Homo sapiens: one gene and its partners. The protein of the gene in region 1 purifies or fractionates together with the protein of each later gene. This does not show direct contact. Each region holds a gene or a part of one and is shown on either strand. Other genes may lie near its edges.

What was found.
Region 2: the proteins of SLC71A2 (region 1) and RAI14 purify together in Homo sapiens (affinity purification with mass spectrometry; one large-scale study listed by BioGRID and IntAct). This does not show direct contact.
Region 3: the proteins of SLC71A2 (region 1) and PPP1R12A purify together in Homo sapiens (affinity purification with mass spectrometry; one large-scale study listed by BioGRID and IntAct). This does not show direct contact.
Region 4: the proteins of SLC71A2 (region 1) and MYO1D purify together in Homo sapiens (affinity purification with mass spectrometry; one large-scale study listed by BioGRID and IntAct). This does not show direct contact.
Region 5: the proteins of SLC71A2 (region 1) and DSG2 purify together in Homo sapiens (affinity purification with mass spectrometry; one large-scale study listed by BioGRID and IntAct). This does not show direct contact.
Region 6: the proteins of SLC71A2 (region 1) and MYL12B purify together in Homo sapiens (affinity purification with mass spectrometry; one large-scale study listed by BioGRID and IntAct). This does not show direct contact.
Region 7: the proteins of SLC71A2 (region 1) and DHRS7B purify together in Homo sapiens (affinity purification with mass spectrometry; one large-scale study listed by BioGRID and IntAct). This does not show direct contact.

Annotation. Positions count from the first base shown.
Region 1 is NC_000009.12:94,381,069-94,384,568, reverse strand, and holds part of SLC71A2 (hippocampus abundant transcript-like protein 1), read right to left. Parts: intron 1-3,500.
Region 2 is NC_000005.10:34,662,828-34,666,327, reverse strand, and holds part of RAI14 (ankycorbin), read right to left. Parts: intron 1-3,500. UniProt on the Homo sapiens protein: Plays a role in actin regulation at the ectoplasmic specialization, a type of cell junction specific to testis. Important for establishment of sperm polarity and normal spermatid adhesion.
Region 3 is NC_000012.12:79,925,098-79,928,597, forward strand, and holds part of PPP1R12A (protein phosphatase 1 regulatory subunit 12A), read right to left. Parts: intron 1-3,500. UniProt on the Homo sapiens protein: Key regulator of protein phosphatase 1C (PPP1C). Mediates binding to myosin. As part of the PPP1C complex, involved in dephosphorylation of PLK1. Capable of inhibiting HIF1AN-dependent suppression of HIF1A activity.
Region 4 is NC_000017.11:32,762,125-32,765,624, forward strand, and holds part of MYO1D (unconventional myosin-Id), read right to left. Parts: intron 2,958-3,500; coding exon 2,754-2,957; intron 1-2,753. UniProt on the Homo sapiens protein: Unconventional myosin that functions as actin-based motor protein with ATPase activity. Plays a role in endosomal protein trafficking, and especially in the transfer of cargo proteins from early to recycling endosomes.
Region 5 is NC_000018.10:31,539,677-31,543,176, forward strand, and holds part of DSG2 (desmoglein-2 preproprotein), read left to right. Parts: intron 1-1,516; coding exon 1,517-1,638; intron 1,639-2,469; exon of another isoform or gene 2,470-2,645; intron 2,646-2,843; coding exon 2,844-3,176; intron 3,177-3,425; exon of another isoform or gene 3,426-3,500.
Region 6 is NC_000018.10:3,272,133-3,275,546, reverse strand, and holds part of MYL12B (myosin regulatory light chain 12B), read right to left. Parts: intron 2,664-3,414; 5' UTR 2,649-2,663; coding exon 2,465-2,648; intron 1-2,464. UniProt on the Homo sapiens protein: Myosin regulatory subunit that plays an important role in regulation of both smooth muscle and nonmuscle cell contractile activity via its phosphorylation. Phosphorylation triggers actin polymerization in vascular smooth muscle.
Region 7 is NC_000017.11:21,175,464-21,178,963, reverse strand, and holds part of DHRS7B (dehydrogenase/reductase SDR family member 7B), read right to left. Parts: intron 732-3,500; coding exon 622-731; intron 1-621.

The DNA of each region.
Region 1 (3,500 bases):
CAGGAGTTTGAGACCACCCTGGGTAACATGACAAAACTGCAACTCTACAAAAAATACAAAAATTAGCTGGGCCTGCTCGTGCGCGCCTGTACTCTCAGCTACTTGGGAGGCTGAGGTGGGAGGATCGCCTGAGCCTGGGGAGGTCGAGGCTCCACTGAGCCGTGATCATGCCACTGCACTCCAGCCTGAGCAACAGAGAGAGAGACCATGTGTCCAAAAAAAAAAAAAAAAAGGAAAATTTGACACACGGCACACATGGACAAACCTTGAGGACATTATGCAAGATGAAATAAGTCAATCACAAAAAGATAAGGATGAATATGGTATGATTCCATATATATGAGGTATCTAAAGTAAGTCAAACACATAGAAACAAAGGAGAATGGTGGTTGTCAGGGAATGGGAGGATGGCAAAAAATGGAGTTGTTGTTTCATGGGTATAGAATTTGTTTTGAAAGAAGAAGTAGTTCTGGAAATTGGCTGCAGAACAATGTGAATATACTTACACTACTGAAGTCTACACTTAAGAATGGTTAAGATGGTAACTTCTTTGCTATGTGTATTTTACCACAATTAAACAATTTTTTAAAAATCAACCGTATTTCTATATGCTGGCAACAAACAATTGTGAATTTAAATTTTAAAAAATTACATTTATGTAATGATACCATTTACAATAACGTCAAGAAATATGAAACGGAATAATCTGACAAAAGATGGGAAAGACATGTCAACTGAAAACTACAAAACTCAGCTGAAAGAAATTACAGATCTAAAATAAATGGAGAGATACTACATTCATGCATCAGAAGACTTGATCAATTCTTTCCAAACAGATCTTCACGGCAAAAGAATACCAATAACAATCCCAAAAGGCTTTCTTGTGGAAATTGCCAGGCTAATTCTAAAATGCAAAGACCCAGAATCACTAAAACGACTTTAAAAAATAACAAGATTGGGGGACTGTTAGTTTTCAAGTCTTATGAACCTCCAGTAATCAAGACTGCAGGGTACTGATGTAAAGACAAATAGATCAAAGGAACAGAATAAAGAGTTCAGAGACTGACTAATATATGGACAATTGATTTTTGACAAAGATGCAAAAGTAGACCAGGCATGGTGGCTCACACCCATAATCCCAGCACTCTGGGAGGCCAAGATGGGTGGATAACGAGGTCAGGAGTTCGAGACCAGCCTGGCCAACATGGTAAAACCCTGTCTCTATTAAAAATACAAAAATTAGCCAGGTGTGGTGGCGTGCGCCTGTAATCCCAGCTACTCAGGAGGCTGAGGCAGGAGAATCGCTTGAACCTGGGAAGTGGAGGTTGCAGTGAGCCGAGATTGCGCCACTGCACTCTAGCATGGGCGATGGGACAAGACGCCATCTCAAAAAAAAAAAAAAAAAAAGATGTAAAAGCTATTCAATGAATAAAAACATATTTTTCAGCAAATGAACAACTGTTCATAAACAAATAATTTCCATCCTTATTTTGCACCATATAAAAATGTAATCAAAATTAAACACAAACCCAATTGTAAAATCTAAAACTATAAAGCTTCCATAAACATAGAAGGAAGGCCAAGCACAATGACTCACGCCTGTAATCCCAGACTTTGGGAGGCCGAGGCAGGTGGATCACGAGGTCAGGAGATTGAGACCATCCTGGCTAGCGCGGTGAAACCCCGCCTCTACTAAAACTGCAACTCTACTAAAAATACAAAAAATTAGCCAGGCGTGGTGGCGGATGCCTGTAGTCCCAGCTACTCGGGAGGCTGAGGCAGGAGAATCGCTGGAACCCGGGAGGCAGAGATTGCAGTGAGCTGGAGATTGCAGTGGGCAGAGATTGTGCCACTACACTCCAGCCTGGGCGACAAAGAAAGAGACTCCGTCTAAAAAAAAAAGAAAAAATAGAAGGAAATTCCTATGATTTGGGATTAGGCAACAATTTCTTAAATATGAAACCAAAACCCTGATCTATAAAAGAGCAAATTGATAAATTTCATCAAAATTTAAAATTCCTGTTCTTCAAGACACTGCTGAGAGAATGAAAAGATGGACCACGGCCTAGAGAGAATGTATTTGCAAATCATTTGACGAGGGACTTGCATCCCAAATATGTAACGAATTCTCAAAACTCAATTACAAGAAAACAACCAACCAACAACAACAACAAAAAATAGGCAAAAGACAAGAACAGACACTTTGCCAAAAGGGATATACAGAAGACATATAAGTTTAGGGAAGTTGGGCACATGGCTCACACCTGTAATCCCAGCACTTTGCGAGGCTGAGGCAGGTGGACGACTTGAATCCAGGAGTTCAAGACCAGTCTGGGCAACATAGTAAGACCCCATCTCTATAAAAAATTAAAAAATTAGCTGGGTATGGTGGCATATGCCTGTAGTCCCAGTTACTCGAGAGGCTGAGGTGGGAGAATTACCTGCGCCCAGGAGGTCAAGGCTGCAATGAGCCAAGATCACGCCACCGCACTCCAGCCTGGGCAACCAAAGTGAGACTCTGCCGGAGGAGGAAAAAAAAAAAAACTTATGGAAAGATACTGAATGCCACTAGCCATAGGGAAGCACAAATTAAAAGAACAATGAGACATCACTAAAGACCAATTGGAAGGGCTAAAATTGGCCAGGTGTTGGTAAGGATATGGATGAACTAGAATTATCATACAGTGCTAGCTGCAATGTACAACTGTACAATTACTTTTAAAATAATTAGTTTGGCAATTTATTTTATTTTATTATTTTTTTAAAGACGGAGTCTTACCATGTTGCCCAGGCTGGTCTCAAATCCCTGGGCTCAGGCAATCCTCCTGCCTCGGCCTCCCAAAGTGCTGGGATTACACGCATGAGCCACCATGCCCAGCCAACAGTTTCTTAAAAAGTTAAATACATCTACCATATGACCCAGCCATTTCACTCCTATTTACTTTTAAAAAAGTGTATTCTGTACAAAGATTGGCACACAGATGTTCACAGCAGCTTTATTTGTAATAGCCAAAAACTGGTGAGAAGCCGAAAGTCCATCAACAAGGGAATGTACAAATCGTGGTTCATCCACAAATGGACTACTACTCAGTAATTAAAAAGAATGAACTACCGATTTACATAACACTGATAAATCTCAAAATAATTTATGCTGAACTTTTTAAAAGCCAAAGAGGAGAATATGCTGTATTTATAAAATAACAAAAAAAAAAAAAAGCTAGAAAATTCAAACCAGCTGGGGGCAGTAGCTCACGCCTGTAATCCCAGCACTTTGGGAGGCCGAGGCGGGCGGATGGTCTGAGGTCGGGAGTTTGAGACCAGCCTGACCAACATGGAGAAACCCCGTCTCTACTAAAAATACAAAATTAGCCTGGCATGGTGGCGCATGCCTGTAATCCCAACTACTTGGGAGGCTGAGGCAGGAGAATCACTTGAACCCAGGAGGCGGAGATTGTGGTGAGCCGTTATCACGCCATTGCACTCCAGCCTGGGCAACAAGA
Region 2 (3,500 bases), on another chromosome or scaffold:
ACCTACTGTGAGACTAGGAGTACTGTCGGGGGGCCGGGACATCTGTGAGCCTAGGAGTACTGTCAGGGGTTGCCTGGGACACCTACTGTGAGCCTAGGAGTATTGTCAAGTGGGGCGCAGGACATCTCCTGTGAGACTACAAGAATTGTCAGGTGGGGCCTGGGACATCTCCATTCCTTCCTGTTAACAGCAAAACTGGGAAACTGCTGCCACCAAAAGCTGAAGACAGAACAGACCCAACTCCTTGGGGTGAGAAACTTAAGACTCATCCTTAGAATTCATCAGGTCTCTGTGAAATAGTCATATTACAAAACCACCTTTTCATTGCATATAAATTGCATTTTATTACATCCAATAGAAATAGATCCTAAAAATGGTCAATAGTATGTTGACTGGTTGACATAGCAACCGATGACTAGTTTTCAAATTGAGAGTATAAAACCCACAATTATTACTTTTCACTCATGTATGATAGGTTTTCGAACTGTGGGTGGCAGTGGGGTGGGGAATAGCGGCACATGATAGAAAAATAGAGCCCTTGTAATTGTATTCTCAAACTTTGAGAGGTGGTCATTGTGGGTTCTTAACCTGGGTATTCCAAGGAGGTTTATAAATGGCCTTAGGGCAAGGAGTTCCATGAAACTCATGAGACTGATAAAAATTATGAATTTATAGCATCATTGTACATACATCAGTTTCTCCAAGGAAGAATGGTCCAAAACCCCCATCAGATTTGCAAGTGTCCATCTATGCCTCACGAATATTTAAGAATCACTGCTGGATGGTTTTCTCTGGTTTGCAAATGGATTCCTCTTAGAGAAAAAAAAAAAAAAAGAAAAAAAAATGGAAAACACTTTACTCTGTGCTGCCCTAGTGCAAAAGGAGGCTTCTCTGGCCTTTTATTCTCCATCAGTTAACACTGCCTGTTTTCTGAGTGTCTATCACTTCAGCCAGCAAAAGGAACTGGACAGACTTAGTGAAAGTGAAAAGAGGTAGATGCTGCTTGTTAGTTTTAGAGTTATTATCTCTTTGAAAAGAACAGCTAAATTAAGCAAACTGATTGCAAAAACGTGGAACCAACCCAAATACCCATCAATCAATGAGTGGATAAAGAAACTGTGGTGTGTGTATATATATACATATATATATGTGTGTATATATATATATACACACACATATATATGTGTATATATATACACATACATATATACACATATATATACACATATATATACACATATATATACACATATATATACACATATATATACACATATATATACACATATATATACATATATATATACACATATATATATATATACACATATATATATATATATGATGGATACTACTTAGCCATAAAAAGGAGTGAACTAATAGCATTCACAGTGACCTGGATGAGATTGGAGATTATTATTCTAAGTGAAGTAACTCAGGAATGGAAAGCCAAACATCGTACATTCCTACCCATAAGTAGGAGCTAAGCTATGAGGATGCAAAGGCATAAGAATGACAAAATGGACTTTGGGGACTCAGGAGGAAAGGGTGGGAAGGGAGTGAGGGATAAAAGACTACAAATAGGATGCAGCGTATACTGCTCAGGTGATGGGTACACCAAAATCTCACAAATCACCACTAAAGAACTTACTCATGTAACCAAACACCCAGTTCCCCAATAACCCATGGAAATAAAAAATTTAATAAATAAATTAATTAAGCAAATTGAACTTATCTAGATCATAAGAAAACAGAATATCTTATCGATAACAATACCTAAAATGGATATGAAAAATTAAGTTGAGCTTTAAAAGGTAATATAATAAATAAGTGTAAGGGAAACTGGTTCCTTGATAATAAGCTTTGGTGTTCACTAAATGTCAATTTTTTTCTTTCCTTTTTTTTTTTTTTTTGAGACAGTGTCTCGCTGTCACCCAGGCTGGAGTGCAGTGGTGTGATCTTGGCTCACTGCAATATAAATATACTTTTTTTTTTTAAAGTAGATATGGGGTTTTGTGCCATGTTGCCCAGACTGGTCTTGAACTCCTGAGCTCAAGTGGTCTGCCCTCCTCAGCCTCTCAAAGGGCTTGGATTACAGGCAGCAGCCACTGTGCCTGGCCTAAATGTCAATTTAAGAAAATAAATAAATAAATAAGGAAAGAAAAAAAAAGAGCCCATGTATTTCCTTCCACTGTACAGTAAGCTTCTTGGACTACAACCACCTTTTCTCACAACTAGATTCTGCTTATTTAGAAGCAGGGATTAGCAAATCATGAAGAACTTCCCAAAGGTGTCCCCTTGCCCCGGTGTGACATATGGTCATGGAATTATACGGCAAGACTAATTTCCAGTGAATGCCATTCACTACAGAAGGGACTGGCCTAGATCGCAAGTAAGGTTAGATGAGGTGACACTGATCACAAAAACCCAGCTGGTGAATCAATCAAGACACAATGCACAAACTTCCGCAAAGAGTGGATAAGGAGGAAAAGTGTTTCTTTCACATCTTCTGAACTTCGACTTCGCACTTTGTTGCTGATTTCTGCCTTTTGATTATTGTTTAATTCTCCTCTAGACTAGGACAACTCTATATCTGATGACCGCCATGAGGGGCTTAATGACCTCTGAGGCAGGAGTAGTTGAGAGATGTTAATCTCCTACTGTGTGGCAGATACTCTACTGGACACATAGAATATAAAATTGAAGAACAAGGCATGCTTCCTTCAGTTAAACAGAAGAAGGTACTGCTTTGTTTTTAAACACATGGTTAAGTCAGTAAAGTTACTTTTTATTTGTATTTATTTATTTTTTTAGACAGGGTCTCACTCTGTTGCCCATGCTGGAGTGTAGTGGTAAGATTTTGGCTCACTGCAACCCTCGATCTCATGGGTTGAGGTGATCCTCCCACCTCAGCCTCCTGAGTAGCTGGGACTACAGGAATGCACCACCATGCCCAACTAATTTTTGTATTTTTTTAGAGACAAAGTTTCGCCATGTTTCCCAAGCTGGTCTCTTAACTCCTGGGCTTAAGTGATCTTCCTGCCTCAGCTTCTCAAAGTGCTAGAATTACAGGTGTGAACCACCATGCCTGGCCAAAAGTTACTTTTTAAAATACTGATTAGATTTGCTGATATCTCTCAGTGGGCCTGATGTCAAAGACGAGGCTAATTTTTTTGTTCATTGTAGATGGCTGGAGCTAGAAAATTGACATTTGATGAACAATTTTTATCTTTTGTTGAACCACCTGTACTTTTCAGCTCATGACTAACTACAAAGGGAAGAAATATCTTTAAACTGGGCATGGTGGCTCACACCTGTAATCCCAGCACTTTGGGAGGCCAAGGCAGGTGGATCACTTGAGGTCAGGAGTTCGAGACCAGCCTGGCCAGCCATGGCCAACATGAAACCCCATCTCTACTAAAAATACAAAAATCAGCCGGGCATGGTGGCATGTACCTGCAGTCCCAGCTACTCAGGAGGCTGAGGCAGGAGAATTGATT
Region 3 (3,500 bases), on another chromosome or scaffold:
ATGTTCTGGAGCTGAAACTCCAACAGAAAAGCTCTAGAAGTGTTCCATGCAAGAATATAAATATTCAAATAAGTTTATAACCATCTAAAACAATTTTGAAGGCTAATAAAATATATATAATTTGGGATGTTTATTACAAGTAAAGGTTGAGTGCATACGTGTACGTGTGTGTGTGTGTGTGTGTAACAGTCCATGAAAATATACTTTCCCACATGGTTATTAATCTTTAAGAGGGTGCCAAGTGACATCTCACAAAATGTATTCTCCTCTGCACTATGCAGTATTCAAGAAAATGACATGAGCTTTGTACAATCTTATGATTTTATTGTTAGAGGTCATGTTAAACTAAGAAAATAGTAATTTCAGCTCAAATGTGAGTTAAATCATCAAGTTAAAGTAAAGCTTTTTATTAAGTGAAGCTCTCTCTGCAGAATATCTCACTTAATATACATAACATTTAAATAGACTACTAAAAAAGTGACAGCTGAGGAATGCTTTCACTTCTTTCCATGGTTTCTACTGAATGTCATTTCAGAAATGCCTATACAACACATGACAATGTGGAATGTCTCCTCCCATGAAAGAGCATTTGAGTTGAGCAGCAAGCACACTTAGGGCAGTAACACAGAACTCAAGCGTGTCTTTTTATGGTTAGCCAGCATAACAATGCAAAGATAAACAACCAAAACACTAATAAGGTCAGAAAATACTGACATAGAGGGAGCCATAGTAAAAATGTTATTTGGAAAAAAAAAGTATCAGTAAAATAACAGAAAATATGCATTATTTCTAATATTACCATGCTAGAGATTTCTTTTCTTTTTCTTTCTTTTCTTTTCTCTTTATTGGTAGAGACACCGTCTCCCTATATTGCCCAGGCTGGTCTTGAACTTCTGGGATCAAGTCTCTTGCCTTGGCTTCTCAAAGTGCTGGGATTACAGGTGTGAGCCACTGCATCCAGCCTAGAGATTACTTTTCTAAATGAACACTCAAGGATTTGTTTAAAGAATTTTTAAACTAAGTTACATAAACTGAAGCGTCTATTGATAATCAGTAATAGATCTCATTTCAAAAATAAATCTAACATCCCAATAATTTTTTTCTTTAAGACAGAATCTCGCTCTGTCGCCCAGGCTGGAGTGAAGAGGCATGATCTCAGTTCACTCCAACCTCTGCCTCTTGGGTTCAGGCGATTCTCGTGCCTCAGCCTCCTGAGTAGCTGGGATTACAGGCATGCGCCACCATGCCTGGCTAATTTTTATTTTGTATTTTTAGTAGAGATGGGGTTTTGCCATGTTGGCCAGGTTGATCTCAAATTCCTGAGCTCAGGTGATCCGCCTGCCTAGGCCTCCCAAAGTGCTAGGACTACAGGCGTGAGCCACCATACCCAGCCACCTAATAAATGTTTTGATTGTAATAATGGCTACCTTTACATTGTAAGTATTATAAAAGTAAGTGGTTGATATAAGCTTTTTTATTAGGACATTTTAAAAGTTTGTCAGTGTGTTACACTTACCCAATTATTTAATATTCTATGAATTCTGCTCTTCAAAATATTAGTTTACATTGTGTCCAATTTTTTTTAATCATTAAATATTTATTGTGTACCTACTAAAACAAAATGCCGATACAAAAGGAGATTTAAAGAAAAAAAGAATCAAAGTCCCTACCTTAAGGGTATATAAGGGACTTCTTCCCCCCCACCCCCAGTATCCATGGTATGAAGTTTCCTACAATTTGTCTCTAAAAAGAATCAAATATGTACATGTACGTATGTATAAAAAATTTACTGTAAATGATTAAAAAAAACTAAAACAGGCTAAGTGCAGTGGCTCACGCCTGTAATCCCAGCACTTTGGGAGGCTGAGGTGGGAGGATCACTTGGGCCCAGAAGTTTGAGACTAGCTTGGGCAACACGGGGAGACTCTGTCAAAGAAAAAAAAAAATTAGCTGGAAGTGGTGGCACATGCCTGTATTCCCAGCTGATCGGGAGGCTGAGGTGGGAGGATCACTTGAGCCCAGGAAGGCTACAGTGAACTATGTTCATGCCACTGCACTCCAGCCATGGTGACAGAGTCTGTCACCCTGTCTCAAAACACACATACACACACCACACCCACACACACACCCAACAACTGAAACGATATAAATTGCTATTAGGGTAAAGAAAAATAAAGGTAGTTAAAAATTAAATTCTATGTCCTGAAAAAAGGAGTGTTTCTTGTTGCTGCTGATATATTCTGCACATAATGGTAAGTCAAAAATAATCTTGGCACTTCCTAAAATTTAGGACAATTTCGAATTCTGAGATTAATTTAGATACAGTACTACTGCACTTCAATTACCATAGAAAGGTCTTAAAAGTATGGGCTAGCTAAAACAAATGTGGATGAAGAAAAAAATTATATGTGTGTTTCACTTGATTTTCAGCTAATTTACAGAGAAACCTCCAATTACTAAACACCACCATAATGATGAAAAGATTTAAGAATATTTTCTTCTTCAGACTTCAAAGAAGATACCTGGCATAGGGTAAAGTTTGAGTTTCGGCATCAAACAGACCTGCATAAGAATTCCAGCTCTGCCATTTATTTTCTTGTTAACTTTGAGCAAGTGAAAAAGCATGTTGTGAAAATTAAACTATTGTTTGGAAAAGCACTGCTCCTCAATAAAACACTGATTAAGTCATGGCTACTACATATCTGACTCCAACTGAGAATAAACTTATAATTGTTGGAGTTCTTCAACCTTTCAAAGAGGTATACCAAAATGCCAATACCTCATCATCTTCTCAACCTTATTGTGGAGCCCCACAAACTTTCAAAAGAAGGGTGGAGTAAAAGATGGCAATTTTTTGCAGGCAGAGGCAATGAAAATAGCAACTTCATATAGTGTCAAGAAGTAACATGTTATGGTAGTAACAAAACAACGTTTTATGCCTCCCCCTATTAAAAGGTTTTTAAATAGTTTTCTTTTAAAAATCATCTAATAAGATTTTTAAAACACTTTTCTTATGTGAACTGTAATTTTTAAATGTGGTAATAACAAATGGATGATGAAAAACACTTCCTCTATTCCATCCAGTGTTTCTACCTGGCTATAGAAAATGCTCAGTCACAGCTTGCAATCATACTGTAGCTGAGGCACATGAAAGATGGTCTTGGTTATGACACCTCAAAGTCAGACCACAAAAGTGTTGCCAGGAAGCACAGAGGCAGCAACTACAGAAAAAGCATTAGAACAGCAGCAGTGTGGGCACTGGTGCCCTACCAGCACACCCCATATATGGCTAGGGTTGCCCACTTATTTGTAGGAAGTGAGGGGCCAGTTTGGGGTTGGGAGGGTTTTATTTGTTTGTTTAGGTAGGTTTTTAAAAATGGATTTAGGATGATTTCAATAAAAACTTTTGAAAGGCATGAGCATAAAGTGTTACAGCTTTTCTAAAAAGAAAACTATGCAGAGAAATATTTTACACTGCACATTCTTTTAGACACAAATTT
Region 4 (3,500 bases), on another chromosome or scaffold:
AGACCAGAAGGATGAGTAAGAGGTAGCCAAGCAAGAGAGGAGAGAAGAGCAGTCCAAGCAGAGGGAACAGATGTGCACAGGCCCTGTGACTGGAAGGAGAAAGGGATCAGGATAATCTGTGAGGACTGAGAGAAGACTAATGTGCTGGGCTGAAGAAAGGGGGGCTGGGTATAGTATAAAATGAGGTGGGAGAGGTGGGCTGGAGCCAGACCATGTTAAAGTATTATTCTTGCTTCTCTCATTCTCCACATAATAGGTCCTATGGATTTTATTTTCTCAACACAGTCCATTTCAAATCATCCTCCTCTCCCCATTTGTACTTTCACTTTTCTGATTCAAGCTGCCCTCATCTCTTTCCTGGATTAACAAAATATCCCCTTAATTGACCTCTTTGCTTCCATTCTTACTCTAGCCCCCATAACATTCTCCATACTAAGGCCAGAGTGATCATTTTAAAAATGCAAACTTGCCAGGTGCAGTGGCTCATGCCTGTAATCCCAACACTCTGGGAAGCTGAGGTGGGCAGATCACCTGAGGTCAGGAGTTTGAGACCAGCCTGGCCAACATGATGAGACCCCATCTCTACTAAAAATACAAAAATTAGCCAGGCATGGTGGCGGGTGCCTGTAATCCTAGCTACTCAGGAGGCTGAGGCAGGAGAATTGCTTGAACCCGGGAGGTGGAGGTTGCAGTGAGCTGAGATCATACCATTGCACTCCAGCCTGGGTGACAGAGAGACACCGTCTCAAAAAAAAAAGAAAAAAAAAAAAAGACAAAAAAACGGCCGGGTGCGGTGGCTCACACCTAATCCCAGCACTTTGGGAGGCCGAGGAGGGTGGATCACAAGGTCAGGAGATGGAGACCATCCTGGCTAACATGGTGAAACCCTGTCTCTACTAAAAATATAAAAAATTAGCTGGGCGTGGTGGCGGTCGCCTGTAGTTCCAGCTACTTGGGAGGCTGAGGCAGGAGAATGGCATGAACCCGGAAGGCAGAGCTTGCAGTGAGCTGAGATTGTGCCACTGCACTCCAGCTTGGGCAACAAAGCGAGACTCCATCTCAAAAAAAAAAAAAGGCAAACTTGATGTCATTGCCCCTCCTTAAAGTCCTCCCTATTGCTCTCCATTGCACTTAGGAAAAATTCAAATTCCCCCAAAACTAAAAACCAAGCCTAAGACTTACAAGAGTAAAAAATGAAATAGACAGTAAACTAATCAACCAGCAAAACAACAACAACGAAAGTTAGACGTGAGAAAATACAACGCTTGCCACACAGATAACAAAGGGTTAAAGTTTATGATATGCTAAGAACACTTAGAAATTGACAATAAAAAGATAACAGCTCCAAAGAAAAATGCACAAAAGATATACCCAGGCAATTCTTAGAATATGTTAAAATACTCTACAAAAATATGATAAGATGCTCAAATATACTAGTAATGAAATAAAAGTAACAATAAAATATTACCATGCAGCCATAAAATCAGTAAATTTAAAGTTTAAAATAAATATATGGCAGGTGCGGTGGCTCACGCCTGTAATCCCAGCACTTTGGGAGGCCAAGGCAGGTAGATCGCTTGAGGTCAGGAGTCCGAGACCAGCCTGGTCAACATGGTGAAACCTTGTCTCTACTAAAAATACAAAAATTAGCTGGGCGTGGTGGCACACTCCTGTAATCCCAGCTACTTGGGAGGCTGAGACAGGAGAATCACTTGAACCCGGGAGGTGGAGGTTGCAGTGAGCCAAGATTGTGCCACTGCACTCCAGCCTGGATGGCAGAGCAAGACTCCGTCTCAAAAAATAAAAATAAAATAAGTATACCCTTTGACCTGGCAAGCTCACTCCTGGGAATCCATCCAGCTGAAACAAAAGCACTAGTATATAAGCATAGATGTATAAAGACGTGCAGCATTGTTTGCAGTTGCAAAAAAGGGAAGTAAAGTGGGTGACTTAAGAGTAAGGTGGTTAAATAAATTGTGGTACTATCACTGCAGGCTTAGTACACAGCCCTGGAGGACATTATGCTAAGTGAAATAAGCCAGGCACAAAAAGACAAATATTGTGTGATCTCACCTATATGCAATCTGAAAAAGTCAAACTCATAGAAGCAGAGAATAGAATGGTGATTACCAGAGGCTAGAGGAGCGGGGTGGATGGAGAAAGTGTGAGACGTTAGTCAAAGGGTAAAGTTTCAGTTAGACAGGAAGAATAATTTGTGGTGATCCACTGCAAAGCGTGGTGACTGTTAATAATAATACTAATAATATTGTTTCAAATTGCTAAGAGTGGATTTTAAATGTTCTCACCACAAATAAATGGTAAGTAGGTGAGGTAAGAGGTATGCTAATTAGTCTGATCTGATCATTCCATAATGTGTACATGTCCTGAAATATCCCACTGTACCCATAAACATATACAATTATTGTCAATTAAAAATAAATAAAACTTAAAAAAAATGGATCAGAGCTCAGTCAGTTGACTCTGGCGAAGCATTATTGAGTGAGAGAAGCAGCACGTGAAGCCCTCATGAGCGCCACCCCCAGTCAGCTTCCACTCTTCTCAGAACCTTTTTTGGCAGTGATGCTTACTTACATCTGGGAGTTTTACCGAGGCTTGTATGGCCAGAAAGTATCATTATGGTTTCTAAAAGCCTTAACCCTCTTTCAAGAATGTCTGAATACATGCTCACAGGATTTCACTCAATTTGCAACTGCGATCAACACCAGGTGACATAGGGTCAGTTACACTCTCACCTTGGCAAAGGCGTCTCTGCCGTAGCTGGCCTCTTGTTCTGTGTGCTGCTTGTCAATGATGTCACGGCCTGTGGCCACAGTCCGGTAAAGAAGGGCTTTCTCAACCATATCTGTCTTAGTAGAGAGCAATTCTGCTATGATAGATACTACTTTGCCATTCTCAATAAGAGGCGTGTCACCATCTACTACAAATTTTAAATTTCCCTGTATCAAAAGTGAAAAAAATAACACATTATGAAACATTATGTCAAGGATATATTTGCCAATATAAAATACAATTCAGGTGACCTTGTTTGTACCTATTTTCCTAAATACATTATACATCTCAACATATAAAAACAGTGTTTCATCTACTTTTTCCCTTTCTCCGGACACTCATCTATCTTTTTGCTTTCAGTGTATGTTTTTGATAGATAAAAGTTTTACATTTTTATGTAATCGAATCTATGAATCTTTTGCCTTAGGGTCTCTCTTTCTTTGGTGTCATACTTAGACCATTCCTACTCCAAAGGGTTTATGAGCATTTGATGCTTTCCTCTAATGCTTTTATAGTTTTTGTTTTCCTTAAACTTTTTATTTTATTTATTTATTTATTTTTGAGACAGAGTCTCGCTCTGTCGCCCAGGCTGGAGTGCAAGTGGTGCGATCTTGGCTCACTGCAAGCTCTGCCTCCTGGGTTCACGCCATTCTCCTGCCTCAGCCTCCTGAAGAGCTGGGACTACAGGTGCCTGACACCACGCCCAGCTA
Region 5 (3,500 bases), on another chromosome or scaffold:
GGCAGCCTAGGCTAGTGCAGTGACAGAGGAGAGGTCTGTTAGACAAGGGGTCCCCAACCCCCAGGCTACAGACCAGCACCTGTCCATGGCCTGTTAGGAACCAGGCCGCACAGCAGGAGGTGAGTGGTGGAAGAGTGAGTGAAGCTTCATCTGTATTTACAGCCACTCCCCATCACTCGTGTTACCACCTGAGCTCTACCTCCTGTTAGACCAGTGCTGGCATTCGATTCTTATAGGAGCTCAAACTCTATCGTGAACTACTCATGCCAAGAGATCCAGGTTGCGTGCTCCTTATGAGAATCTAATGCCTGATGACCTGTCACTGTCTCCCATCACCCCCAGATGGGACCATCTAGTTGCAGAAAAATAAGTTCAGGGCTCCCACTGATTCTACATTATGGTGAGTTGTATAATTATTTCATTATATATTACAATGTAATAATAATAGAAATAAAGTACACAATAAATGTAATGCACTTGAGTCATCCCAAAACCAACCCCCCTACCCCTAACTTCCCTGTGGAAAAACTGTCTTCCATGAAACCAGTCCCTGGTGTCAAAAAGGTTGGGGACTGCTGTATTAGAGCCATTGGTAGATGTGCAATTGAAAGCACAGCACTCAACAGTCTGCAGTGTACTTTTATACCATCATCTCCATGCTATGGCTACATATACAGATACATAACGGTAAATGACTTGTCTCAGCTTACCAAGTTTGTAGGTAGGTACTGGAGCTGGGACTGTATCTTTTGCTCAGGGATTCCTTGCACTGCTTTCTCATCTCAGATTCCCTGGAGCCTAATGTGGTACTTGGCACATAATAGACACTTGATGAATGTTTGTTAAAATTGTTGAATTGCCACTGGCTGATTTCAGTCTTCTTATTAATCGTAGTAGCTGTAGTTAATGTGCTGTTGACTGTTTGACATAAAAACGAATCTAGGCAGTAGCCAGTTCATCATTGGAAGCTGCCAAATGGGAGTGGCAGATGGGCATGCAGGTGTGTTTAATTCTTTACTACATTGATCAAGGGGTCAGCCTTGGTCTTTGCTTCCTCCTAGGGGTAAAATAAAATCTAAGAAGAGGGCTCTGAAATTGTTATATGTTTCACTTTATTATTTCTAATTACTGTTTTCAATAGTACATATATTTTTGCAACAGTGATTTTTTTTTAATTGGACCATAGTTTTAAAAAAATTAATCTTTAAGCTGGTTTTGATGATTTGGATACTATCTGAACCTAGTCTTGGTATTCCACTCAGCAGCCACAGACAGCCTCTTTTTGATGAACAAGGCCTTGAATCTGTAAGACTCCCTCATCCTGCCTTCGGGTTTTGGAGTAATTCACCCAAAACAAGCTTGGTAAGGTTGGATCAGGGTGAAGAAAAGAAAAATAGAGCTGTAAATAAGTGAAGACAAGTCCAGGAAGGGACATGCAAATTCCAAAATTGTGCAATATAAATTTAGAAATATATCAAGGTTAACCTTATCTGTGTTCAATTTTGTGTCTGTACAGTGGTACCACTTTTACTGCTGATGTGCCATTGCGGAAAGGGCGCCAAAGGCTTTACCCCCATACCTGGCACCATAGAGATGCTGCATCCTTGGAATAATGAAGGAGCACCACCTGAAGACAAGGTCAGTGGATCAGATGTCAATATGACTTGTCTTCTTCTTGGGTTTTAAAGGGGCCTAGGGAAGTGTTTCTTACATGTTTGGTTGAGTGAGTAAAGTGATCACTATGGATTTCACTCATGTGCCTTTGTTAAGCAAAGAGTTCAAATGACAGCATATTTTGTGTTTGTTGCTGGGGCAGAATTGAGATAGTTTTACTCTGTTTTGACACTTCCCATGTTGTAGAGAATGTAGAGCAAGGTTCAGGAAGAGCAAGAGTGTGTAGGAATCTAAGTCTTTTGTCCTAACATTAAATGGGCAGTTTTCATAACCAGGAACTGCTTCATTTCCATTTCCCTCAATACATAGGGTTTGCAGAGGTAAGCCCACAACCCCCATGACACTTGTAAAATGTTGCAAAACCCCATTTCCCAACTACATCATAGCCATATCCCTTTGTCTCTCTGTTGCACCTTCACCCTGGACCTCTCACCACCATCTGTTATGAGCACCATTTCTAATAGGATAGGATTTAGCATCAGGTGGCAGAGAACTCAGAATAACAGTGGCTTAATCCTAAAATGGGCATTCCAAGATCAACATGATGATTCATCCGCAGCATGGTCCCCAGTTCCCTCTTCCTTGTTTTTCTTCCATGGTTGAGTTCCATTCCCACACTGTCCTCATGTCCTAGTTCTAGCTACCTAGCTGCCGTCCCCACATTCTAACCAGCACATGGGAGAAAAGTGAAGAACCCTCTTTAAGCACACTTCCCGGAACTTGTGTACACCATTTCTGCTTCATTCACATTGACCACAGTTTAGTCAGGTGGCTATACCTAGTGGCATCAGAGGCTTAGAAATATAGTCTTTATTTTGGGTGGCCATGGATCCAGGTCAAAACAAAGTTAAGAATTCTGTAACTATAGAAGAAGGTATCAAACTGTAGAGGGAGGTTGAAATGCCATTGGTCGCATAGAGTAAAGGAGCTGAGACTGTTTGGGCTTTGTTTTCTCTTTGGGTTCTATCCACCTATAAAACAAGAAGAGAGAAGAAAGGAGATCTTCATAAGACTTACATAAGTTATTCAACTCAAAATACTTTTTCTAACTGGCCTCAGTGGAAATAGCTTATACCTTCCTATGCCCACTTGACTCAGATCCTTCTACCAAGGATGAAGGATTCCCTCCATCCTCCTGACTCAGTTCTCAGCTGTGTTTGCTCTCACAGGTGGTGCCATCATTTCTGCCAGTGGATCAAGGGGGCAGTCTAGTAGGAAGAAATGGAGTAGGAGGTATGGCCAAGGAAGCCACGATGAAAGGAAGTAGCTCTGCTTCCATTGTCAAAGGGCAACATGAGATGTCCGAGATGGATGGAAGGTGGGAAGAACACAGAAGCCTGCTTTCTGGTAGAGCTACCCAGTTTACAGGGGCCACAGGCGCTATCATGACCACTGAAACCACGAAGACCGCAAGGGCCACAGGGGCTTCCAGAGACATGGCCGGAGCTCAGGCAGCTGCTGTTGCACTGAACGAAGAATTCTTAAGAAATTATTTCACTGATGTAAGGATGAGTTTTATGTATTGGTGGTGGGGGGTGGGGGGAACATTTGTATGTGAATGTGATATTATTAGGGTAATCATTGCCTTGGATCCAAATGAGACTTTGGGTTTTTTTTTTTTTTCTTTTTTCAGGGAATACTTATAGGCAATAAGGAAAGAGAAATGGGACCCACAGAATCAGTCGGTGTTAGCTAAATTATGCTGCAGTAACCATGATCTTAGTTCTCACACAGGCATATTTCTCACTTACAGTTATGTTTTTGCCAGTCAGTCAGCTCTGCTTTCCTTCATGATGTCTTCATATCAAGATGCACACTGAGAGAGC
Region 6 (3,414 bases), on another chromosome or scaffold:
CAGGCATATAATGCAAAATAATCACATCAAGGTAAATGGCATAGCCATCCCTTCAAGCATTTATCATTTCTTTGTGTTACCAACATTCCAACTATACTGAGTTATTTTAAAATGTACAACAAATTACTGCTGACTGCAGTCACCTTGTTATTCTATCCAATACTAGATCTTATTCATTCTATCTATACTTTTGTATCTATTAACAGTTCCCACTCTTCTCCCTGCCCTTCCCAGTCTCTGATAACCATCCTTCTACTTTCCATCTCCATGAGTTCAATTATTTTAACTTTTAGCTCCCACAAGTGTGTGAGAACATGTGAAGTTTGTCTTTCTGTGCCTGGCTTATTTCACTTAACATAATGTCTTCCATTCCATCCATGTTGCTGCAATGACAGGATCTCATTTTTTATGGTCGAACAGTATTCCATTGTACATAAGTACCACATTTTTAAAATCCGTTCATCTGGTGACGGACACTTACGGTGTTTTCAAATCATGGCTGCTGTGAATAGTGCTGGAATAAACATGGGAGTGCAGATACCTCTTCAATGATACTACTGATTTCCTTTTTTGGGGGTATATACCTAGCAGTGGGATTGCTGGATCATATGGGAGAGCTCCTATTTTTAGTTCTCTGAGGAACCTCCATAATGTCCTTCACAGTGGCTGTACTTATTTACATTCCTACCAATAATGTATGAAGGTTCCCCTAAAAGGTAAATACATATGTTAAAGCAAACTAAATATGGCCTGAGAAAGACTCCGTACTTCTACAGTTGAGTCCTTGTGAATGAATTATAACCTAGCTTAATAGTCAGACAAGACTGAAAACCTAACTTAGGAGTATGAGCCTGTAACAACTGCTAAGCCTTGGCCAATCTCAGCAGCCATACTTCAACCATTCATACACTGCTGAGTGTTCAAACCATGTTCAAATAAGGCATATGCCGAGCTGTAATCAATCAAGCCATTCCATACCTCACTTCCAATTCCTGTACGTCATTTCCCTTTTTTTGTCTATAAATCTTCTTCTACCACGTGGCTGCACTGGAGTCTCTGTGAATCTGCTGTGATTCTGGGGTTACCTGATTCGCAAATTGTTCATTGCTCAATTAAACTCCATTAAATTTAATTAGGCTGAAATTGTTCTTTTAACACGTATCTTTAAAAGGATGGGTTTCTGCAAAACAGAAGGTCTCAAAGACAACCTCTGACTCTACCATGACTTGTTCGTTCAACAAATATCTATTGAGCATCTATTATAAGCAGAGTATAGACTTGAGAGTTCAATCTTTGGAAGATGGCTACATTCCTCAATTTTCCTCAGAGGCCTTCTTCAGTACTGACTTGCCCAAGAACATACTCAGACATTCTGAATGTGAGAAACACTAGGTTATAATCTAACTACAAGTCAACAAATCAGATAAAAATCTTTGATTCTACTCTCACCCTAGATAAAGAAAAGTTACAAAATGTTAACAATCAGTGAATATAGCTAAAGATGTATAGGTGTTCACTATAATGTTCTTTCCACTTTTTGTAGGCTTAAAAGTTTTCAAAATCATATGTTGGATAGGAATAAGTACACACCTAAACTTTACTTTCAATGTGTTAGGAGAAATAATCAAAATCAAAAGTTAGAAGAATAAAAGCTAGCTGATCATTTTGTAGGCATTAAAAGAGAGAAAAAAAAAACCCCCACCTCTTTCTTTGCCTTTTTGGCCAGTCAGCCAAGCAGGAGGACAGAGCGCAAAGTCTCACTGTAGGCCATCCCTGACCCACTCCCAGCCTGCCTCACCCCCTCCGCTTTGGCCTATCAAGGTCTCCTTTGCCTGCAGTTCCTTGACTCCCAACTGTAAATTAACTGCTGACTCTGGCCAGAACATGTAGGATGCATGTTAAGAAACAATAACAAAATCATACAAGGAATATTAACACCCATATACCAACATACAAATGGCTGTTTATGTGTGCTTTAAATCCTGTATCTTTACATTTTAGTTATTAAAAAAATCATACAAAATATTGTGAAAGTCTTCTTCACTGTGTTCCCTTTTCCAGTCGCACTGCCCCTCCTTCCCAGAGATAACCATCATCACTTACTGTCACTCCTTGTTTATAACCTGTACTCAACCTTTATTAAGTATATTATTTAGCTACACTTGTTTGAAACTCTGGTATTTTGCTGCCTAGCCATGCCCTGGCTTTCCATCTAGAGACCTAAAAAATTTAGCTAACAGGAACATTAGCCTACCCGGGCACAGCATCTGCCAGGTCCCCAACCTTGTAGGCTTATCTCCATATGACTGGCCAAGCCCCAAAATAGCACCTCCCACACCCAGAAATCTCTCCAGAGGCCTTTTGAGACAAGGAGAGAAATATTTGTACATCGCACAAAAAAAAGATTCATAAAGAGACAAATTATTATTTTAGGGAAAATACAAATAAAGAATATAAAGTCTACCTAGAGAAGCAAGCATATCATGCAAATCTTCCTTGTCGATGAAGCCATCTCTGTTCTGATCAATCATGTTGAAGGCCTCTTTGAACTCCTGAATCTGTGACTGGTCAAACATGGCAAACACATTGGATGTTGCACGCTGAGGGCGCTTCTTGGTGGTCTTGGTCTTTGCCTTTTTGCTCGACATGGTGGTTGTTTAATTCTGGATTAAAAAAAAAACACAAAAACGTAAAACAAAACAATGTATAAAACAAAGCAAAAACAGAATACATAATACCTAAAGTCTGTAGGTAAAAATATCAATAAGGAATTATTACTTCAATTGGGTAGGAATAAGTATGCACCTAAACTTTATTTTCAATGTGACAATTAAATGACTGAGTGGAAAAAAAGCAGTTTTGAAACATTAAGGAACAGAATTTGCCAGACACCAGTGGCTCATGCCTATAATCCCAACACTTTGGGAGGCCAAGGTGGGAGGCTCACTTGAGACTAGGAGTTCGAGACTTGCCTGGGCAACATAGTGAGACTCCCATCTCTAAAAAAGAAAGAAACACAATAGAAATTATTGATGTACCTTGTCCTAAACTTCAGGGGATCAATTTTTATGAAGTGAGAATTTAAAATATCTAACAATAGCTAGCATCTATGGAGTACTTACTCTGGCCAAGCACTGTTATGAAGGCATAGGGCTTCCTCAAAGAGAAAGTCTCCAAAGTTGATTTCTTACTCTGACAAAGACTGTCCCCATTTAATCCTCACAACAGTTGCCTATGGTAGGTACTCTTATTCCCATTTTACTACCAGTATAACATAACCTCTCTGAGCCTCAATTTTTCATCAGTAAAACATGATATCTACTTCAATGCAAAGAACTAATTGAGATAACATATGTAAAAAGACTAGTCATGTTCAAAAAAGGTCTCATCTTTATAAATATCAAACCCACCCTT
Region 7 (3,500 bases), on another chromosome or scaffold:
AAATAAAACAAGGGCTGTACTGGTGGCTCACGCCTGTAATCCCAGCACTTTGGGAGGCTGAGGCGGGCAGATCATCTGAGATCAGGAGTCCAGCCTGGTCAATATGGTGAAACCACGTCTCTACAAAAAATACAAAAATCAGCTGAGTGTGGTGGTGTGCACCTGTAATCCCAGCTACTCAGGAGGCTGAGGCGGAAGAATCGCTTGAACCCAGGGGGCAGAGATTGCAGTGAACCGAGATTGGGCCATTGCACTCCAGCCTGGGTGACAGAGCGAGACTCCGTGTCCCAAAAAAAAAAAAAAAAACACCTTTTAAAGTTATCACCATCCCCCACTCCCACCCAGTAAGTAGAGCTTAGCCAGGTAAAAGGAAAGGGAGAAAAGAGAACTTTCTCAACTCACAGTGCTAGCCAGTAGGGGCATCAGGATGTAAACCACTGGACAGTTCTCTCTCCCTATGCAGTGGGCCCGGTTCGCTATGGAGACCTGCTGCCTTCCCTGGGACAGTGTGACGCATGGATGTCCTACAGCTCAGCAGTCCAGGAGTGGGCCACTATCTCCTCAGTGCCTACAGAAGACGGCCTGCACTCCTTCCCCATGGAAAGCACGCCCCTGGCTCACCTTGGTGGCATGAGAAGCGGTGAGTTCTCTGATGAGCTCTTCTAGGGCCCCACCATTCCGGCCACAGAGCACCAGTTTAGCACCCGCAGCATAGAAGACTTTTGCACATTCTAAGGGAAGAGAAAAGAGCCTTGACAGCCATTCTTCCTCAGTGCCGTTCAGTTTAAATTCACCCAGCGTTGCTGTTTGCTGCTTCACACCCTTCACAGGTCTGTGTTGGCCCCTGCTGTGTGGCCCAGCATGAAGCTGGGAGCTAGGGCCCAATGCCGGGCTCACGCCCAGTGCTACAAACATCCACAGGGCAAAGAGAAAGGAGGGCCGAGGTGGACAGATGTGTTAAGTATCATGCTCAGAACACCCCATGATGTTCCTGTTCACCTGGATCAGCTGTGAGCATCACCTATCTTCACAGCTGAGGGAGCTCACCAAGGTCACTCAGGCAGGGTCTTGTCCTGATTGGCAAGGTCAATGAGGGCCAGCTATTATGGTGCTGTGCCCTGCCAAGACTGTGTGGTGGCACTACCCAGGCACAGCTCTCCTGGAAATACTCACACAGTCCTGTAGAAAAGCTGGGGCAGGGGACCGAGGCCCTTCCCAGATCTGATGGGCTGTTTCCCAGGGAGTGCTTGAGGCAGAGGGAGCAGAGTGCCTGAAGGGCCACAGGCAGATAGAGATGGGACAGAAGGTGGAGGGTCTAACAACCTCACTGGCTGGGGAGGGGTCAAGTCAGTGCACGCAAGCACCTGCCACACGCAGGACTATTAAGGGTGCCTGCCTTTGAAAAGGCTCAGTCCTGCTGGGCGGGAGGGAGTGGGGACACTGGAGGAAAGCAGGCTCCACCAAGCCCACCACACTATTCCAGGTAACAATCGATGCGGACTTCAACTACGACCACAGCAGGGACAGTCCAAAGCTAGTCAGACACGTGCTCTATATTCTTTTGGTGGCAAGAAACAGAAACTAAACTCACACTGGGGCAAAGCAAAAAGAGAATTTGCCAGAGGGATTGTGGGGAAGTTCAAGAATGAAGAGGAGAGCCGGATGGCCGAAACCTAGGAGGGACCCAAGTGCTGGCTGCCCGGGTGCTCTCACGTGCCTGGGTGCTCTCACACGCGGGCAGGCCCCAGAGCTCACATGCACAGTTTTGTCTTGTCTCTTCCCAGCTCTGATCAAATCCCAGGGAAGGCCGTGATCAGCCTTGAGTGGGGGGCCCAGCAAGGGTCACAGGTAATTCTCCTGTGGCTAAGCAGGAGGGCCTGACGAGAAACCCCCTGGACGCAGCAGGGTAAACCATGAGAACTGGGGGTGGAGGACTACTCTATGAGGAGTCAGAAAGGAAACGGAGTGATGGGAGGAGAGGAGGCAGAGGGTGGCGTCGTTGCTTCTTGCTTACCCTCCCCTGCAACATATCCTATGTAAATGTTCAGTGCCCCAAAAATGTACATACAGCTTATGAAAAGCAGGACAGCCCAGCAGCCAAGAGAGTGGACTTGAGCTAGACTTCCAACTCCAGTAAGTTAGAACCTCTTTGTTTCTGACTTTCCTCTTATTTAGGATGCTTTTTATCTATCAAACACGGTAGTAAGAGACTACCTACCTTAACTCATTCAGTCCCTCGGGGTGTGACCGTGAGATTGAATGAGTTAAGGTAGGTAATCTCTTACCACAGTGTTTGATAAACAGCACTACAGCGGTGTCAATTGTCATTTTTGTATTTCTATTTATTAAAAATATTTTTTTTAGAGACAGGGTCTTACTCTGTTGCTCAGGCTGGAGTGCAGTGGCACAATTATAGTTCACTGTAGCCTCGAACTCCTGGGTTCCAGTGATCCTTCCACCTCAGCCTGCAGAGTAGGTGGGACCACAGATACTCGCCACCATGGCTGGCTAATTTTTGTATTTTTGTAGAGATGGAGATTTTGCCATGTTGCCCAGGCTGGTGTCAAATTCCTGGGCTCAAGCGATCTTCCTGCCATGACTTCCCAAAATGCTGAGATTACAGGCATGAGCCACTGTGCCTGGCCATATTTCTGAACTACTTTGTAAAAATGTTCTGGCCGGGCATAGTGGCTCATGCCTGTAATCTCAGCATTATGGGAAGCTGAGGCAGAAGGATCGCTTGAGCCCAGAAGTTTGAGACCAGCCTGGGAAACATAGGAATCTTGTCTCTACAAAAAATAAAAAATTAGCCAGGTGTGGTGGCGCATGCCTGTAGTCCCAGCTACTCAGGAGGCTAAGGTGGGAGGATCCCTTGAGCCTGGGAAGTCAAGTGAGCCATGATCACACCACTGTACTCCAGCCTGGGTGACAGAGCAAGACCTGTCTCAAAAAATAAAAATATGTGTAAATAATAATGTTCTAAAAACTGATGATGAAAACTGAAACATAGTTTTTTACTTTTTTTTTTTTTTTTTTTGATACAGGGTCTCGCTCTGCACCCAGGCTAGAATGCAGTAGTGTCATCATGGCTCTCTGCAGCCTCAACCTCCCAGGCTCAAGCGAGCCTCCACCTCAGGCTTCCAAGTTGCCGGGACTACAGGCACATGCCACCATGCTTGGCTAACTTTTGTAGAGATGAGGTTTCGCCATGTTGCCCAGGCTGCTCTAGAACTCCTGAACTCAAGCGATCCTCCTGCCTGGGCCTCCAAAAGTGCTGGGATTACAGGCATGAGCCACTGCACCTGGCCACATGCTGGTTTAAAGAGGCACTCCTGTCCTCACCTGAGGCATAGTCTCCCTTAAGTGCTCACCAGCAGATCTGCACAGGATACCTTGGCCCCTGGCTGACCCTGACCTGACACCAGTGAGCCACTGACTTGGTTCCAGACCGAATCTTAGAGGCCCAGGTGATTAGGTGGCACCCTAGCTCCTGGTTCATG